2 linked regions of the Homo sapiens genome follow. The gene in region 1 interacts genetically with each later gene. Each region holds a gene or a part of one and is shown on either strand. Other genes may lie near its edges.

Region 1 (5,278 bases):
TTTAATTTCATTATCTTGTTTCTTGAAAACATACCCCTGGGAGATGTATAGACACCATTGTACAAATTTTTATTTTATTTTATTTTATTTATTTATTTTTTTGAGACAGTCTCGCTCTGTTGCCCAGGCTGGAGTGCACTGGCACGATCTCGGCTCACTGCCACCTCCTCCTCCCGGGTTTAAGCGATTATCCTGCCTCAGTCTCCTTAGTAGCTGGGATTACAGGCATGCACCACCATGCCCAGCTAATTTTTGTATTTTTAGTAGAGACGGGGTGTCACTATGTTGGTCAGGCTGGTCTTGAACTCCTGACCTTGTGATCTGCCTGGCTTGGCCTCCCAAAGTGCTGGGATTATAAGCGTGAGCCACTGTGCCCGGCCTATACAAAATTTTAAGATGAAGAAAGGGACAAAAAGTTAAGTAATTGTGAACCTAAATCTGTGAGTATGTGGTAATGTGTGTTAGGCCCATGGGGACCAAATCAAGTCCAGATTGCGTTCTGGGGGTAAGGGAGGCATATTTTGAAACACTATAATCAGTGTTAATATTTCATATTATGATTCCATATGTGAAAAACTCATTTTTATAATACAAACTTCAGAAAGTCAAGCTAAATAAAATCTTTGGAGGTAGGGATACACCAAATAATTTGTTTTTTTGTGTTGTGTTTTTTTTGTTGTTGTTGTTGTTTTTGAGACAGAGTCTTGCTCTGTTGCCCAGGATGGAGTACAGTGGGTTGATCTCGGTTCACTGCAACCTCTGCCTCCCAGATGCAAGCGATTCTCCTGCCTCAGCCTCCCGAGTAGCTGGGATTACAGGTGTGACCCACCACGCCCGGCTAATTACTGTAATTTTAATAGAGATGAGGTTTCACCATGTTGGCCAGGCACTGGTGTCGAACTCCTGACCTCAAGTGATCAGCCCGCCTTGGCCTTGCAAAGTTCTGGGATTATAGGTGTGAGCCACTGAGCCGGGCTAGTAATTTTTACAACTAGGAATTCTCCCTCAGGTGGGGCAGGGTCACATGAGATCTCAGGTTTTCACAAGAGGGCTGGGATCGACAAAGACTGAAATACTATAAATCTAGCAGGAGTGGGAATTTCCACTTGCTGGCAGCCCAGGCTGAGAACAAACCCATGAGTAGCACAAACCAAGTTATGTTCCAAAATCTCACAGGAGAGGGCACTGAGGGAAGGTGGAGTCCCTAGGGAAGACTACCTGGAAGAGACACTGTTTGGGCTTGGCTCTACAAAGGGCACACACAGTCTGGAAGAGAAACCTTGATTGGGCTTGGCTGTACAAAGGGCACACACAGTGGGCACAGTAGAGTGGGATGAGCCATAGGTGTGGCGTAGGACTATGTTTCTGGTGTCCGATTACCTCGCACCACTGCCAAGACACACATGGCAGCCAGCCCAGAGCTCCCTCTAGCAGACCAGTCAGCCTGCCCACTACATCCCAACCTTCAGTGCCTTCTGTACTTCTCCAAGCCCCCTCCTTTTTCCTAGGCCTCACCTACTCTCCCTCATCAGTAAACCCTCCCAATAACTCCAGCCCGGCTTCCTTGACTTCATTGCTTGCTTAAATCTAGTTTTACCACCTATCTTGTGCCAGGAGCTCCTCTAAACAAATTGTTACTGACTTACACTTTTTGGCATATCCTCCTCAGTGTCTGATTCAGGGCCAAGCTGGTAAGCTCTAGCAGCATGTGCTGAACTAAACGGACTGCCCTCTAAGGTTGGGCTCTGGATAGGTAAAGACAAAGAGCACCCTGTGTCTACTAAAAATACAAAAAATTAGCCAGGCGTGGTGGCGGGCACCGGTAGTCCCAGCTACTCGGGAGGCTGAGGCAGGAGAATGGTGTGAACCTGGGAGGCACAGCCAAGATTGCGCCACTGCACTCCAGCCTGGGCGACAGAGCGAGACTCCGTCTCAAAAACAAAACAAACAAACAAACAAAAAAAACAAATGCAAAATGGCCCATCCCCAGCAGGAAGTTAAGGGCTGGAAAAGGCTTTTGCTATTCCATGGTTAAGGACAGGGTTTTGAGCCAGCTAGACCTTAGTTTGAATCCAGGTTGTGTGACCTTAGGCAAGTGACAACCCCCCTGAGCTTTAGGTTCCTCAGTGGATACTGAAGACTGCTGAGCTTATGTGGCATGACACACAGGATGATTCCTGGCAGGGACAGTTGTGATGCTCAGGTGGGTTGAAATGTGGGGTATAAGGGACTCAGGCAGTTCTGCAGCTGTTGTTAAGGATGACTGGATAGCTTAAACTAGCCACCCAAGTCACAAAGAAGCCTCTTCATGTACAGATGCCTACCCAGATGCTCTCCATCTCCTCATATTCCCTAGGCATTGAGGCTGCCACTTGACTGTCTCAGGCCCATAGGATGGTCTGTTCCAGCCCCCAGTCTAGCATCCTCTAAATGGGCAGGGGTACCATGTTCAAATAGCCACCCATCCATCGAAGGGACAGCTGCTACCAAGAGCACCTTCCTTTGATTCTGCCTAAAATCCTACGGGGAACCCTGGCCCTCCTCTGTCCTCCCCAGCCCCAACCCACCAGCTGTTCAGAGACAGCCTCTGACACCTATGTTATGTGAACATGAACACTTGGATCTTGAGAGAGAGGGAGGCAGACAGGACCTGTGGCTGTGATCAGGCTGGTAAGTGACAAAATGGAGGCCCATCATCTTGCTACTACCATCCCTTATGTCCCTATACTGATGCAGTCATTAACTCCCATCTCCATGGAGCCTTCCCCAGTCCTGCAGCCCAGGTCCCCTGAAACCCTCCAGCAGAGGCAGTATGGTGCAGTGGATGGGACACAGGCCATTGACTGCGTCAGATGGATGTTGTTAAAAATCCCAGATTTAGCCAGATGGTATATAGCATGCACCTGTACTCTCAGCTCTTCAGGAGGCCGAGACAGAAGGATTGCTTGAGTCCAGGAGTTTGAGGCTGTAGTATGCTATGATCACACCTGTGAATAACCACTGCACTCCAGCCTGGGCAACATAGACCCCCATCTTAATTTAAAAATAGAGGCTAGGTGTGGTGGCTCACGCCTGTAATCCTAGCACTTTGGGAGGCCAAGGTGGGCGGATCACCTGAGGTCAGGAGTTTGAGACTACCCTGGCCAACATAGTGAAACCCTGTCTCTACTAAAAATACAAAAATTAGCTGGGTGTGGTGGTGCACACCTGTAATCCCAGCTACTTGGGAGGCTGAGGCAAGAGAATCGGTTGAGCTCAGGAGGCGGAGGTGGCAGTGAGCCGAGATCACGCCATTGTGCTCCAGCCTGGGTGACAAGAGCAAGACTCCATCTCAAAAAAAAAAAATTGAGGACAGGTGTGGTGGCTCACACCTATAATCCCAGTACTTTGAGAGGCTGAGATGGGAGGATCACTTGAGCCCAGGAGTTCAAGACCAACCTTGGCAATAAAGTAAGACCCCGTCTCTACAAAAAATTCAAAAATTAGCCGGGCATGGTGGCATGCACCTGTGCACCGGTAGTCCCAATTATTTGGGAGGCTGAGGCAGGAGGGTCACATAAGCCCAGGAGTTTGAGGCTGTAGTGAGCTATGATTGTGCCACTACACTCCAGTCTGGGTGATAGTCTGAGACCCTGTCTCAATTAAAATATACATCCCAGATTTGCGATGTTTTAATTTTTTTTTTGAGATGGAGTCTCACCCTGTCACCCAGGCTGGAGTGCAATGGCACGATCTCGGCCCACCGCAACCTTCGCCTCCCAGGTTCAAGCAATTCTCCTGCCTCAGCCTCCCGAGAAGCTGGGATTACAGGCACACACCACCACACCCAGCTAATTTTTGCATTTTTAGTAGAGATGGGGTTTCACCATGTTGGCCAGGCTTGTCTCAAACTCCTGACCTCGTGATCCACCCGCCTTAGCCTCCCAAAGTGATGGGATTACAGGCATGAGCCACCATGCTCGGCCGTGATGTTTTAATTTTGTGACTTTATGACTTTGTGGTTTTTGAGGATGAAGTAAGACACTTAGCTCTGCCTTACCCATAGTATATGTTTGCTAAATGTTAACTGTTTGTTATCAGAGCACCTGGTGACATTTATTTTATATATTTACTGGCATCTTTATGCGGGCCCCACAAAGTATCCTCCACGATCTTTGCAAAAAGCTCTGGTACCAAAGGGAAATGTTAGTGGCTCTTCTAGTCGCCATTGTGGCAGGCTGCTGACATATTTGGAGTGGATGGATTTTGCCAACAAACTGATGCTGCATTTATCTCTGTCCTACTCTGAAGAAAGCAAAGACATCCCTCAGCCCAGTGGCTATTAAGAAATGGAGAGGAGGCCAGGTGCAGTGGCTCATGCCTGTAATCCAGCACTTTGGGAGGTTGAGGCGAGCGTATCACTTGAGGTCAGGAGTTCAAGACCAGCCTGCCCAATATGGTGAAACCCCATCTCTACCAAAAATATGAAAATTAGCTGGGCGTGGTGGCAGCCACCTGTAGTCCCAGCTACTCAGGAGACAGGAGAATCACTTGAACCCTCCGGGAAGTGGAGGTTGCAGTGAGCTGAGATCGCACCACTGCACTCCAGCCTGGGTGACAGGGCGAGACTCCATCTCGGAAAAAAAAAAAGGAAAGAAATGGAAAAAGTGGAGAGGAAAGGATTCACAGGACCCAGCAGTGACTCTTCCGGCCCCATCCTCTTCAAGACCTCTGAGGCATGTCTGTGCCTCATTCTCTCCCTCCAGCCAGTGAGCACTCCACCAGCCCATCTATTCCTGATGCTCCCTGCAGGGCCTGCATTGCATGGGACCTAACCACACAGCTCCAGCTCAGAGGCCATCTGTTGGAGTGCATGAGTCCAGCCTAGTTCTTCATTCCCCTCCCAGGACCGAACCATACCTGGCACTGTGTTGTCAAGTATGAAAGCAAGGCACCCGCCCACAAACATCTCCGTGGTCAGCAGCACAATCAGAATCTGATCCACTTCAAGAATGCCTGTGGAATAGGCCAAGGGCCAATGGGTGTCATGGCCCAATCTGGAGAGCAGAGTTGAGGGACTTCCTCTTGTGCAGCTATGGCAAAGGAACAGTACAAAGCCCTGTCTCAAACCTATCTCTGTCTTTCCTATCTCTGGGTTCAAGTCCCAATTCTGCCAGTTGCTAGTTGTTCACCTGGGACAAATCACTGAGCCTCATCTTCCTCATCTGTAAAGTTGAAATGATAATGGAGAAATGATAAATGTAGATAAATGGAGCTGTTTTGAAAATTAAATAAGCAC
Region 2 (3,676 bases), on another chromosome or scaffold:
CTCACCACAAGCATCTATCATAGGACTTTCTTTGACACGAGTTGCTGAATTATTTGTCAAGTCTGGGGGAGGATGGGGAAGGGCGGACACAGAACTCACTCTGGCGAGATCCAGATCTGCCTGTTTCCGGTGCCTCCAGAAGGTGACCGAGGAGCGCGAGTGTGGCCGGATCACTGGCTCCCCATGAACCAGCAGCTTCACAAAGACGCTCAGGACAATCACACCATTTACCAGCCATAAGAGAAGAGTAGGCATCATCCAGTCAAACCAGCCCCCAGAACCTAAGAAGGAGCGTCTCAGCAGAGTCTGCTAGGAAAGGCCTTGCGGAGCAGCCAGGCACCTGACAGACCCCAGCACTATCACAGGAAAGAGTCTTCTACCTCATTTTCAGAAGAAAGGGCAAATAATTCTATAATCTAAACAGGGCTAATGACTGTAGCCCTTCTCATTATGGAGCTGAGTGCCATAAAAATCTTTGTTTTGAAAGGGTTGAGGCATTGGTTTTGCAACCTCAGATAAAAAACACGATATCCTCCTTCAAATAGGTACCACCCCTCCACCCCAGGGTATTTAGAGTAGTGTGGGTCCCTGATTTGTTTTGCTCATTCTGACTGAACTTGGGCTTGCCTTGTTACTTCTAAAATGGAACTTATGCCAGTCCCTATCAGAAGCAAGCAGGTGGGGGCCCACTATAAAAGCCCTTTGGGACCTGGTAGCCAAGCCAAGAAGTTTGTACACAGGGTCCTTCTCCTGCCATAGTGGTCCAGCCATGCCCAGGTGGGGCAAGGGGCCTCCACCTACCTGACTCGAATGACAGGACACTGCGGCCAGAGCCTGAGTGTGGGTGCTGGTCAGAGTCGTGGGCCCCTCCCCACTGCAGCAGGGAAGTCAGGGGGTTAAAGGAGAGGCACAGGAAGGTGAGGACACACAGAAGAATCCGTGAGCGGTCTACCATGCCCAGCGCCACAGGAGGAGAGTCTGGCTCATCTTTGACCTTCAAAACAAGGCCTCGAGGTTGGAATAAATACTGCATAGGTTTTTACAGCACTTTATAAATACATATATATATATTGAGAAATGGTTATGAGGTTTAAATTCAAGTCGATTAACTCAGGACTAAGGCCAGATGGGAACTGAGAAGCCTATAATTCACTAACTGCTGCTCAAACATTGGCACATTCACCTGCTTGCTAACTGAGAAAAGTACATGTTCCAAAGAACAAAGGTAGAAGAGATTTTCTTTTAAAATAGAAATCTACCACAAAAGAGAACACACTGTATGATTCTGTTTCTGTATAATTCCAGAACAGGCAAAATGAATCTAAAGTAACAGGAAACCAATGAATCAGTCATTGTCTGAGGCTGGAGAGGGGTGTGGGAAACTACCTGCAAAGGTGTACAAAAGAGCTTTTTGGGGTGATGGAAATGTTCTATATCTTGATTACAGTGACAGTTACATAGCACTGTACATTATGTTAAAACTCTTGGTACTGTACTTTTAAAGTAGGTATATTTTATTGCATTTAAATTACACCTCAATGAAGTTGATCAAAGACCGTATTTAGTGTGAATCTATCTAAAGGATTTTACCTGTTCTAAAACTGTATCATTGTCTACACCCACCCCACTCTCCATTTTACAGCAGGAGGGCTGAAGCCAGATCTCCCCTGCGCCCCAATGTGTATATAGCATGTCATTTCTTTTCAATATTTTAAAACCATTTAAGATTTTCTTCTGATGACTCAGAAGCCCAGCTAATTCAATTTATATGTCAAACAGCCTGTTGTTGCCAAACAGAACCACATTTATAAGAATATTTCAAAAATGGAGCTTCCTTAGTAAAATTAAGTATATGATACAATAAACAGCTTAGTCAAAAACAAACACTAGGAGGGAACTTTGTGCTTTCAGAGTCAGAAACTGCCGAAGTCAAAATACAGTACAAAACCCAGTGGTCTCTACAGGTTCCCAGGAAGATCATTAGGCTCAGAGCGTCTCTTAAGTAATTCCATTAAACTACCATTGCCAGGGGCTTTGACGATTAAAGGCCCATAGGTAAAATGTTATCTGTTAGACTGCAAATTGTAATCATTTCTGAAAAGAGGACCCAGAGGCAGCCTCATCCTAAACCAACTGATCAGCCTCCCAAAGTGGTCTTGCCAGGCCCATTAAAGGCAGAGTGAAGCAATGAGGTGCCTCCAGCAGCTCCCAACGCCCCCACAACAGCTACTCTGCATTCTCGTTCTGGATCTGGCACTCATTCCTCTCTGACGGGGCCTATCGGCAAGGACCAGTTAAACCTGAGGGACTGTTTCCCCCCGGAGTCAGTTTTTTCTTTCTTTATTCTCCAGGACCTGGCTAATTTCACAGAATTCCTGTTTTTCTCCAGGCTAGGCCCTCTTAACATGCGGCCTGGCCTCATAACTGTGACCTCCCAGCTATCTTCTTAGGGGAAATGGGAAAGATTCCAGGGATCAGGAGATTTCAAAAGTCTGTACCTTTGCATCATCCAATAGAGGGCTTCCTGGCTCAGAGTCAATGGAGTAGGGAGAGAAGCCAGCCTGGGACCCTGAGTCAGAGGCTGGGGGGGACATCAGAAGGACATTCTGATTAAAGTCCTCGATCTTCAGGTCCACCTCATTGTCCACCAGACTGCCTAGGTCGATGCCCTTTAGAAGCTCTGCAAAGAAAACCCCACCTGGTGAAAATGATCTGCTTTTACAAAGCCCCACCTGGGCCAGGGCTGACAAGCCTTTTCTCAGCACACTTACTGTTCTTTTGATTTGCCAGCTTCAGCACCATGTTCTCCTGGCGCAGTTTATGATTGACCTGCTGCAAGTATTTGATGTAATCAATGGCCTTCCTCAGAACGCCAGACTTGTGCATCTGGGTAGGAAGATGAGTGAAAACACAGTGAGACCAGTGCAGGCTACAGTGTGAAAAGAGCAGAGCCCTAGCACTTGGGATGACAGCATGGCTCTGTGAGAGGAGAAACCAAGTTCAGATGCTGGTCCTCCCAATGATTAGCTGTGCCACTCGGGAGAAGTTATTCCATACCTCAGAACCTCACTTTCCTCCTCATTAGCACAGAGATAATGAAAGCGCGTGAATCACAGGCTTGCAGCAGGGCTAAATGAGATAATGAGTGTAAAGGGCTTAGCCCTGAGCCTGGCAAATAGTTGACACTCAATAAATATTAGCTATTGTTCCCACTTCTTATAATAATCCTAGCACCATAACAAACTTTAACGAAAACAAATGAAAAAAACAACCACAGCATTGTTGGACAGTTATCTTTTTTTTTTTCTTTTTTCCAAGACAGAGTTTCACTCTTGTTGCCCAGGATGGAGTGCAATGGCGCGATCTCAGATCACTGCAACCTCTGCCTCCCAGGTTCAAACAATTCTCCTGCCTCAGCCTTCCAAGTAGCTGGGATTACAGGCACCTGCCAGCACGCCCGGCTAATTTTTTGTATTTTTAGTAGAGACGGGGTTTCACCATGTTGGCCAGGCTGGTCTTGAACTCCTGGCCTCGTGATCCACCCGCCTCAGCCTCCCAAAGTGCTGGGATTACAGGCGTAAGCCACAGTGCCTAGCCTGGACAGTTATCTTAAGGCATAGATTTTTACTTAGGATGTACAGCTTTCAGATTTGTAGGCAAGGAAAATGAAATTTTC

What was found. Genes that interact genetically often act in the same process or in processes that back each other up.
Region 2: changes in SLC23A1 (region 1) and SREBF2 together harm fitness less than expected from each alone (positive genetic interaction), as found in Homo sapiens cells (one large-scale study listed by BioGRID).

The regions. Positions count from the first base shown.
Region 1 is NC_000005.10:139,372,503-139,377,780, forward strand, and holds part of SLC23A1 (solute carrier family 23 member 1), read right to left. Parts: intron 4,996-5,278; coding exon 4,900-4,995; intron 1-4,899.
Region 2 is NC_000022.11:41,874,547-41,878,222, reverse strand, and holds part of SREBF2 (sterol regulatory element-binding protein 2), read right to left. Parts: intron 2,887-3,676; coding exon 2,772-2,886; intron 2,681-2,771; coding exon 2,499-2,680; intron 995-2,498; coding exon 802-994; intron 282-801; coding exon 100-281; intron 1-99.